3 linked regions of the Homo sapiens genome follow. The protein of the gene in region 1 purifies or fractionates together with the protein of each later gene. This does not show direct contact. Each region holds a gene or a part of one and is shown in the gene's direction. Other genes may lie near its edges.

What was found.
Region 2: the proteins of FAM114A1 (region 1) and THUMPD3 fractionate together in Homo sapiens (co-fractionation; one large-scale study listed by BioGRID). This does not show direct contact.
Region 3: the proteins of FAM114A1 (region 1) and OAS1 purify together in Homo sapiens (co-immunoprecipitation; one large-scale study listed by IntAct). This does not show direct contact.

What each region holds. Positions count from the first base shown.
Region 1 is NC_000004.12:38,870,746-38,874,400, forward strand, and holds part of FAM114A1 (protein NOXP20), read left to right. Parts: intron 1-3,655. UniProt on the Homo sapiens protein: May play a role in neuronal cell development.
Region 2 is NC_000003.12:9,379,942-9,383,596, forward strand, and holds part of THUMPD3 (tRNA (guanine(6)-N(2))-methyltransferase THUMP3), read left to right. Parts: intron 1-561; coding exon 562-677; intron 678-3,257; coding exon 3,258-3,368; intron 3,369-3,655. UniProt on the Homo sapiens protein: Catalytic subunit of the THUMPD3-TRM112 methyltransferase complex, that specifically mediates the S-adenosyl-L-methionine-dependent N(2)-methylation of guanosine nucleotide at position 6 (m2G6) in tRNAs.
Region 3 is NC_000012.12:112,909,854-112,913,508, forward strand, and holds part of OAS1 (2'-5'-oligoadenylate synthase 1), read left to right. Parts: intron 1-1,197; coding exon 1,198-1,382; coding exon of another isoform or gene 1,383-1,405; intron 1,406-3,655.

The sequences.
Region 1 (3,655 bases):
GGAGATGGAAACCGTCCCAGGAAACACAGTGCTTGTCATGACTGTAATCCTGGTGGACTCCAGCAGCCCCTGCTCAGAAACAGTTCTGTATTTCAAACACACAGTTTCTAGTGGTTTCATACAAAAGGGTATAGTCTGAAAAATGATTACATTTCCCCCATCATGATAGCATCCACAGTCGATAAAGTTCTACCAGAACAACCAAACAAAAAATAATTTTTTTTCGTTTTGATTTGGGGAAAATTAGACCTGTAACAAGTAGAGATAAATATGGATTAGAGATACACACAATTAGAAATTGAATTAGAGCTGATCTTGCATGGCTTTCTTTTTTTTCTTTCTTTTTTTTTTTTTTTTTTTTTGCGACAGGGTCTCACACTGTCACCCAGGCTGGAGTGCAGTGGCATGATCCTGGCTCACTGTAGCCTCTGCCTTCCAGGTTCAAGCAATTCTCATGCCTCAGCCTCCAGAGTAGCTGGGATTACAGGCACATGCCACCATGCCCAGCTAATTTTTTTGTATTTTTAGTAGAGACAGGATTTCACTCTGCTGGGCAGGCTGGTCTGGAACTCCTGGCCTCAAGTGATCTGTCTGCCTTGGCCTCCCAAAGTGCTGGGATGTGAGCCACTATGCCTGACCGATGACCATTTTTAAATTTAACAGATGTAAAGATCTAGTATTAATAAAATTTATAAATTATCCATAAATATTTTAAACAATAATCTATAAATATTTTAAATAATAATCCATAAATATTTTTTGACAATAGTCCATAAATATGTTTTAACAATGCCTGTTTAACATCTTACAGCTGAGTTTCTGGGGTATTTCTGAAGGGATGGTTTGTGTTGGTTGAATGCAGAACAGCCACAGAGAGGAGTTTTACTGCAGTACTTTTTCTACATTTGGGATAAACTGACCTAAGGTAATTTGGCCATCAGAGATAGGTAAGGGCTCTAGGTTTCCTCCTCTGCAACTTCCCTACCAAGAGTTAAATTACCATGAATCCAAGTTCACTGATGGAATTCTGCCATAAACCCACACATGTATTAGCAAACAGGCTTAGTTAACCAGTCTGTTCTTATAAGCTCAAGGAAGTCCTAGCTCACTGTCCTTTTAGGCCTGTGTTCTAGAGGCAGGACTCAACTAAGCTTCTAGTCACCTTCAGGCTTTGGAGTCCTGCATTCAGCTAGAGAACCTAGAAGAACGCTACTCCAAAGGGTAAGTCAGCTGCTGGATTCAGTGCAATCTCATGTCTTGGGTATAGAAGCAGAGAAGGCACCTGTACGTTATTTCTTGTCGATCCACATACCTGAGGCATCTTTCATGTCACCAGTGAAAAATTATTTCTCATATCCCTTATGCTAATTAGCATACCCTGGAGTGCCCATCAGAGAAGACGGTAGATGAACCCTCTAAAAAGAGGTGGTCACCTCATTACGGATTTTTAAGTGCTTACTAAAGACCCCTGGATAGTATATTCCTGAATAAGGCACTTCAAATGTCATCCAGCCACCCTTAGGGCACAAATTAAAACTAAGTAACATGCACGTGTCACATAGTATATGCTGAACTATTTTAGGATACTTCATGAACAAGATAACAACACATGAGGGCAAGGCTTGTACATTTAGGCATCCATAATGGTTTTTATTTACCCATAAGTGTTTATCACAGCCAGATTTACTCTGATGTTCCTGCTTATAGAAAACTGAAATATTTTGGGACTTCCTAATAATCCAGATTAATAATAAGGATTTTCAAATTACCTTACAAAGAAATAAAAATATCAGACAATGTCTACCATCTACCGATTTAAAAAAATGAGAATAAAAGTGATGGCAAGGTATCATTTATTCATGAACCCATTCTCCTCATTGTTGTGTCCATACGACTCATGTGAGGATAATAAATTAAGACAGGGAAATCTTTAGGCCATGGCAATCAAGCAAAGTCCTAGGCCATGGGTAAGCAGACATTTTCGGAAACCGGCCAGATAGTAAATATTTTAGGCTTTGTGACTTTGCAGCCCATATGGCCTGTGTTGCAATGACTCAGCTCCGCTATTGTAGTGCCAGAGAAACCATGACGGTCCCATATGTAAACAAAGGGTGTATCTCTGGTCCAATAAAACTGTGTTTACCAAAACAGGCAGAGGACAAGAGTTGGCCAGCAGACTGGTTTGCCAACACCCTGTCCTAGGCTAGTCCTGATTCAGAGAGAGGTTTTCACAAAGATTTTGTAAACTTCCAAATGACAACAGCCTTTTTAGCAGCCCCCATCAATTCTACTCACCTCCCATAAACCACCCACAATACTACCCCTTCTCTATACAGTGGGTTTCTATCGTTCTTTACTATTTCAGCTAGGCTTGAACCTGGCTCCTTGACAGCCCACGGCCAACCTTGAATATCCTAAACTTTGTATACCAGCTCAAGGGAAGTCTGCATTCGTTGCCATTCTTACATGTAGACTTGTTTACAGGAATATTATCACTGAATTCAAGGTCTGGCAGATATTTTTGCTTACACAAATACATTCTAACTCAATTAACTGGGAGGTGAAGGAAAAAAGAAAGACAATACGGAAATGTCAAGTCATTTGGAACCATCTGCTGTAAGAGAGCTCCTGAGTGTCTGTACACAAATATTAATCTAACTCAACAGGCATATTTGTTGAGCTTCCTACTATGCACAGGAAGCCATGCCAAGTACTATGTAGAATATGAATACAAAACAAGGAAGGTCTTTGTCTTTATAGAATTTACAAATCATAGGAAAAACTGAAGCAACTCTAATCAAAGAGGACTTTAACTGTCTAAAGTAAGATAAACACAAAATGCCCTCAGAAGGGTTCAGAAGGAAAATGTTCAACCTGGAGGAACAAAGAATGGAGGAGGCGGTTATTTTAACTGGGTCTTCAATGTGCAAAAGAACAACATATGGAACTAACAGCCCCCGAGGGTCTCTTGTGGATGTGCCAGGCATTGCACAGATATTTACACTGTCTCATTTAAGGTTTTATAGGAAATCGTGGGAGGTAAGCCTGGTGGGATCAGAGCACAGAGGTCCCTGGATACTAGCTGAAGCATGTGGCCTCATCTCAGGAGGGAGAGGAAGGGGAAGCTCCTGAGGATGTGTGAGCAGGAGAGCCATGTAATTAGAGCCGTGAGGTGAAGGATGGGAAGTAAGGGGAAGAGCTGCAGTGAACAGGGGAACCCAATACTGAAATAGTCATCATGAACCATAATGAGGACCTTGCCATGAGAATAGGAGTAAAAGAATGTAGATAGATTCTCAATAAAGAGCCTCTAGGATTTGGCCACTGACTGAATGTAAGAAAAGAGGCAGATGGCATTGCTGATAGGGCTCTGATGTGGTTCAGTCTCAAAGTCAGACACGGGTTCAAATTTCAAATGTAGAATTTACTAAAAGTGTGACTTCTGAGCTTCAGTTTCCTCGTCTGTAAAATGGAGCTGATAACATTCAACTCACAGGAGATAATACATTTAAAGAGCATGGATACAGTAAGCACTCAATAAATGATAGCTGTTGATACTATATATTCTTGAGAGGGTGAAAGCGTGGTAAATGACAGCTCTGAGTTATTGGGAAAATCTATGTGTGAGATGGTGTCTCATTATGGTTTTTATTTG
Region 2 (3,655 bases), on another chromosome or scaffold:
AGCTTCCCAAAGTGCTGGGATTTCAGGTGTGAGCCACCATGCCCGGCCGGAAATAGCATTTTATTTTGCAATTTTCAAATATATCAGATTATGTAAACTCCCACAACCACAAATCTCAAATATTTTCAAACCGCATTAACTTAGAATTTAGTGTGCCAGACACTGCTGGATGAGGAACTGAATAAAATACTAGACCTGACCTCAGAGAGCTCCCAGGTTAGTTGAGAGGCATAAAGGGGAAGAAATAATTAACCGTGGGACAAGTGCAGTGGCAGAGGTACGTACATACAAAGTGTTTTTGGGAGGGGCACATAAGACTGCTTGGAGAGTTAAGGTTGATGTTGAAAGGGCATGAGGTTTGAGCTGGGTCTTAAGAGATGGGTAGAGGTTCAGCAAGCAGAGAAAGAATAAGAGGGCATTTTCAGCCAGGGAAATAGCACAGTTGACAACATGCAATGTTTTGCCACTCTAGAAAAGCACTGGATTTTCTTTGTTTGTTGACAATTTAATCATATTTTACAGTTTGCTACTTTTGTTTTAACATACACTCTTATCTTTTAGGGGGCCACTGAATGGTCTGACTGTTTCCATATTGCTGGTGATAATAATCCACTGGCTGTGAATAGAGCAGCAAATAACATTGCATCTTTATTGACCAAGAGCCAAATTAAAGAAGGGTAAAAATTTAAAAGATTTCTTAGCATCTTTTAGAGTTAGAGAATCACTTTTTATATTGACTTTATGAATTAAAACTCCCAGTGCATTGTGACGTCATTGTAACCAAAATGAATATACTATGAGACTCCATTTACATTTTTAAAGTTTATTGAAAATAAGTTATATTTTTAAAATATTATTTTAGCGATAATTTCCCCACCATATGCAATTTTTCATTTGTCTTATTCATATGTCTTTTCCCCTACATATTGGAAGAATATTTTATAGACTCATTTTAATTTCACAAAATTTTAAACAGTATATTTTTACATAGGCTTCTTTTTTGCTTTGGGTACAGGGTCTCATTTTGTCACCCAGGCTGGAGTGCAGTGACATGATCATGGCTCACTGTAGCCTCAACCTACTGAGCTCAAGCAATCCTCCTGCCTTGGCCTCCCTAGTAGCTAGGAATACAGGCATGTGCCACCATGCCCAGCTAATTTTTTAAAATCTTCGTAGAGATGGGGGTCTTGCTGTTTTGTCCAGGCTGGTGTCAAACTCCTGGCCTCAAGAGATTCTGCCGCTTCAGCCTTCCAAATTGCTGGGATTAGAGACGAGTCACCACACCTGGACCATAGTCTTTAAAGTCACTACATAAATTCCATCGTATAGAAATACTGCAGTTTATATAGCCTCGCCTCTATTTTATTACTAAGTCATTGGTTATATATTTCATTGTCTCTCTGATCTAATTTTTTAGGACAGTGCTTCTCAAACATTAATGTACATGTGAATCACCTAGGAGTACTGTTAACACAGATCTGATTTAGTAGTTTGGGATGGGACCTAAGAGTCTGCATTTTCCAGGAAACTCCAGGACAATGCTGATGCTGCTGGTCTATGTATCAACATTAAATCCTTTTACGTGTATTAAGACAAGTAGTTGGAAGGCTTCAATTTTCTTAAATACTGATTTATTGTGATGAATTAATTTTGAATGGTTGTTTCATATTTATTGAGGGTTTTTTTTAATGAGCCTAGTATATGGCCAGTCTTTTTTTTTTTTAATTAAAACTGATAAACATTTAAACAAACGTACCTTTCTAGCTTCTGAATATTTTATCTTGTTTGTACCTACACTGTCTGTTCAACCCGTACTTTTTTTTTTTTTTTTTTTTTTTTTTTTTTTTTTTTTTTTTGAGACGGAGTCTCACTCTGTCGCCCAGGCTGGAGTGCAGTGGCTTGATCTCGGCTCACTGCAAGCTCCGCCTCCCGGGTTCACGCCATTCTCCTGCCTCAGCCTCCCAAGTAGCTGGGACTACAGGCACCCGCCACCATGCCCGGCTTATTTTTTTTTTGTATTTTTAGTAGAGACGGGTTTTCACCATGTTAGCCAGGATGGTCTCAATCTCCTGACCTCATGATCTGCCCACCTTGGCCTCCCAAAGTGCTGGGATTACAGGCATGAGCCACTGTGCCCGGCCTCAACCTGTACATTTCTATCCATTTTACTTTGGTTTTTAATATTTTTTGCCTTTTGTTTTGTGCAGTTATTGGTATGCGGTTATAATACATATTTTATGTGTACTTTTAAAAATTATGTAATGATTGCTTTTATTGCATTTTTTTCTTAAATTCTTCATTAAATGTCAATTAAATCCTTAATTTCTGCTGATAACCTTTGACTTATCTTCAGTTCTTAGCCTGTGCATTATTTTGTTTCTTAAACCAGTTGCTTTGCCTTAATGAGGAGGATTTAAATCCTTTGTATTTATTATTATTCATTCTGTCTTCTGTCATCTATATTTTTTATCTTAACTTTTTTCTTAGTCTTGTTTTATATAGCATGGCACATATTTTCCTTTTGGTTTTTCATCTTGAAACAATTACCTATATATTTGCCAATTTTACTATCTGTTTTTCTTTTAGGCCTCCTGTTATTACTAGTTTTACAAACTTTATTCTTCAGATACATCACCCCATTATCTATTCTTTAGTATTGTTTTTCTCCAGTGTATGTTTTATCAGCAACTTAAATTTTTGTATCATCGGTTATGTAATTTACTGCTTCAGCATTGTTTTTAAAGTTGTCTTTTGCAGTTCTCTGCATTACAATCATGTTTTCAGTTTGTTTCCCTTTTTTCTGAGACGGGGGTCTTGCTCTGTCACCCAGGCTGGAGTAAAGCGGCACAATCCTAGCTCACTGCATCTTTCAACTCCTGGACTCAAGTGATCCTCCCACCTCAGCCTCCTGAGTAGCTGGGACTATAGGTGTGTGCCATCATGCCCTGCTAACTTCTTAAAAAAGTATTTTAGAGACAAGGTCTCACAGTGTTGCTCAGCTGGTCTCAAATTCCTGGAGTCCAGTGATCCTCCCACCTCAGCCCCTGAAAGTGCTGATTATAGGCACAAGCTACCATGCCCAGCCTGACCTATTTTTTACCTTTGTGCCATTTCTTAAATTTTGAATAGGTTGATATTATCACTGATATCCTTAGCAGTTTATGTTTTGCTGTAGCAGTCTCTCTTCAGAAACAAAAATTGTTGTAATAACTTTATGCTTCACAGTATGTTGAAGCACCTTTCCTTTGTCCCCACAGCAAACCCTCCTGGGGCTTGCCCATAGATGCTGTTCAGTGGGATATCTGCAATCTGCCATTGAGAACTGGCTCTGTGGATATTATTGTAACAGATTTGCCATTTGGAAAAAGGTGAGAAATACTAGTACCTGCTTGTCTTCTAAATATGTCATTATTTTCCTTGCGTTTATTCTAAGTCAGGAAAAAAATCTTGAATTTTAGCAGACTTAGCAGAGCTGTTTTTCACTTAACAACATGATGGATTCACCCATTATGTTTCTTCCGAGAACTCAGGAATGTATTAACTACATTTGGAATCCTGACCATCATGGGAGGTTCATTTTTAAATTACCTGTAATTCACTTTCTAGCCCATTCTTGAATTATATATCCTACACAAAAAGGTGGTAGAAGACTTGG
Region 3 (3,655 bases), on another chromosome or scaffold:
GGCTACTAATTAATAGTTGGTCATTAAGCAGTAATTAGTGATTAATTATCAAGTAATTAGGACTTAATTAAAGGAACTGTCACAGTTTCCTTTAGTCCTAGGGCAGCCATGAAAAAAAAAATGCTGACTCTCCAAAGACACCAGGGTATGAGAAAGTTTTGGATTCTCTCCTTTGTGCCATCTCCTGTGTTGGGGGCTGAAGTACAATGGTTGTAAAAGACAAGAGGGAGAAGGCTGGTCACAGTGGCTCACGCCTGTAATCTCAGCACTTTGGGAGGCCAAAGTGGGGGGATCACTTGAAGTCAGGAATTCAAGACCAGCCTGGCCAACATGGTGAAATCTCACATCTACTAAAAATACAAAAATTAGCTGGGCGTGGTGGTGTGTGCCTGTAATCACAGCTACTCGGGAGGCTGAGGCAGGAGAATTGCTTGAACCCAGGAGATGGAGGTTGCAATGAGCCAAGATCATGCCATTGCACTCCAGCCTGGGCAACAGAGTGAGACTCCATCTCGAAAAAAAGAAAAAAGAAAAGAATATAAGGAGTGATTAAAAAAGAAAAGAAAAGAAAACTAAGTAGGGTGAAACAATAGATAGCCATGGGGGTTAGGGAGCTTTTTTAGACAGGGTCGTGAGGGAGGGTCCCTGAGCCTGAGTGGCGAGAAGGAGTGAGCCTTGGGGAGATCTGGAGGTTCTGGGAAGAGGAATGGCAAGTGCAGAGGCCCTGAAGCAGCAATGACCATGGCACATTTGAGGAAGAGAGAAAAAGTCAGAGAAGTAGAAAGTGGGCAAAGGAAGCAAGACAGGAGGTGAGGTGGGAGAGGTTCCAGAGACCAGATCACACCAGACATCATTGGCCACCATAAGATCTTTGGGTTTTAAAATTCCAGATGTTATGGGATGCAGGAAGCAGCATGATCAGCAGCATTCTCTAGGTGCCAGGTTGAGAACAGGCTGTGGGGGAACCTGTAAAGAGGTTGCTGCCATAGTTCCGGCGAGTGACGGTGGTGGCTTGGATGGGGTGATGGCAGTGGAGAGGGCAGGAGGGAGGATCAGGAATGGACCTCAAGACTTCCCAGCCCTGGGTCTGCTGCACTTTTCAATCAAACCCCATGGCCAGGGAGATTGTCCCCTCAGAGTGACTGAAGGAAATTCAGAGAAGAGCTGACACCTAAGTTGTAGATTTTGCCCGAACAGGTCAGTTGACTGGCGGCTATAAACCTAACCCCCAAATCTATGTCAAGCTCATCGAGGAGTGCACCGACCTGCAGAAAGAGGGCGAGTTCTCCACCTGCTTCACAGAACTACAGAGAGACTTCCTGAAGCAGCGCCCCACCAAGCTCAAGAGCCTCATCCGCCTAGTCAAGCACTGGTACCAAAATGTATGGCCCTCCCACCAGGCCTGGTGGGTCCTGTCTCGACTGGGAGCAGAGGAGGGGTGGGGGGAGGAGAGAAAGAAGGGAGTGAAGGGAAGAGGAGGGGGAGTGGTGGAGGGAAATAGAGGGATGGAAAAAGGAGAGAAAGGAAAAAGAGGTGGAGAGAGGAGCCTGCAACAGAAGGGAGAATGAAAGGGAAGGAAGAGAGAAAGGAAGGGATTTTGGTGTTCTGTTCACTGCTGTATCCCCAGAACTTAAAACAGAGCCTGGTGCATAATAGGTGTAAATAACTGTTGAATAAATGAATCAATGCTACATACACACACGCACGCACACACACACAGAGAGAGAGTCAACCACACTCTTCAGAAGGTGGATAAGTTAAAACAAGAGTTTCAAACAAATATATGTTCAGATGCCCTTTCCTCCCACTTACTGGCTGGCTGGCCTTAAGTAAGCAACTTAACCTTTCTGTTCTTTCTGCTTTCTTATCTGCAACGAGTAGCATGCCATAGCTAGAGTAACACGGCATATAGTTGGTCCTGATAAATGTAGCATATTTTAGCCACCATAGGAGTACACATAATAAAAGCTAACATGTAGTATGTGCTTAGCTTATCTATGTTTTGTGGATGTGATACAATTTTCTGTTCACTTTTAAATGCCCTGCATCTTAGTCAATTTTAACAGTGATTCTGTAAGTTAGATAAGGTTAGGCATTATTATTAAATCCATTTTACACCAAGAGAAACTTGGGTCAAAAAGAGAAACTCCTGGGTCACATGGCTCATTCGGCCAATAAGTAGCAGAAGTAAAATTTGAATTTGGCTGGGCGCGGTAGCTCACACCAGTAATCCCAGCACTTTGGGAAGCCAAGGCAGGTAGATTGCTTGAGCCCAGGAGTTCAAGACTAGCCTGAGCAACATGGCAAAACCTCGTCTCTACAAAATAAACTAAAAATTTAGCCAGGTGTGATGGTGAGCACCTGTAGCCCCAGCTACTGGGTAGGCTGAGGTGGGAGGATCGCTTGAGCCTGGGAGGAGGAGGTTGCAGTAAGTCAGGATTGCACTACTGCCCTCCAGCCTGTGAGACAGAGCAAGATCTTCTCTCAAACAAACAAACAAACAAACAAACAAAAACTCGAATTTGGGTCTATTGACTTAAGAGTTTGCCTGATAATAATAGGCATTCAATGTATATTTCTTGAATGAACGAATGAATGAAAATAATCAGGAATAAACTTTCCAATTTAAAAGTAACACCTCTAGGTAAAAAAAAGACAATCATTTAGTTGCCAGACTTCTAAGTGTTTGCTGTTCTATGAATTGTAATCATGGAGCCTGAGCATTGTAGAATTTACAAAAGCAGTTCCTGACAAAAGCAGCACTGCCCCCAGGGACATATTGAAAATTAATGAGGGTGTTTTTGGTAACCATGGTGATGGGAGGACATGGGTGCTACTTATATTTAGTGGAAAGAAGACAAGAATGCTAGTTATTGTACAATGATCAAGAGAGTCCTGCACAGCCAAGAATTGTCTTTTTCTTTCTTTCTTGATGCTGTTCTCCTTTAAAACAAGACAAGATTAACAATAATTTAACTCCACTAACCACCATCATCACCACCTCCAACTTATATGCTACATTTCTTGTATATTTCAAGTCTGTTTATATTTTCAAGTGCCTCGAAGTATTATTGTTTTATAGCCAAATGTTTAGTTAATCTGCTCACAGATTTACCACTTTCTTCACTATTCATTCTGTCTTACACCTCTAACATTCCATCTGGGGTAATTTTCCTAAATGATCATGCATCCTTTGGGATTTCTTTTGATGATGGTCTATTGGTAGTAAACTCTCTCAGTTATTGTTTGTCTGAAAATGTCATGCTTTTGCCTTCATTGTTGAAGGGTGCTTTTGCTGGGTGGTCATTTCAGTATATTGAATATATCATTCCATCTTCCAGTGTCATCATTAAAAAGTCAGTTGCCAGTCTAACTGCAGCTCTTTTATAAGTAACCTGTCTTATTCTTCTGGCTGCATGTAAAAGTTTTCTCTTTGTCTTTGATTTTGTTTAGCTTCAATCTGCTGTGTCTTAATGATGGGTTCCTATTGTTTGTCCTGATTGGGATTCCGTTAAGATTCCTGAATCTGTGGGTAGATATCTTTAATCAGTTTTGAAACTTCTCAGCCATTCTTCTAAAATATTGATTCTCCTTCATTCTCTCCTCACCTTCTAGAATTCCAATTAAATGTATGTTAGACCCTGCTCTATCTTTC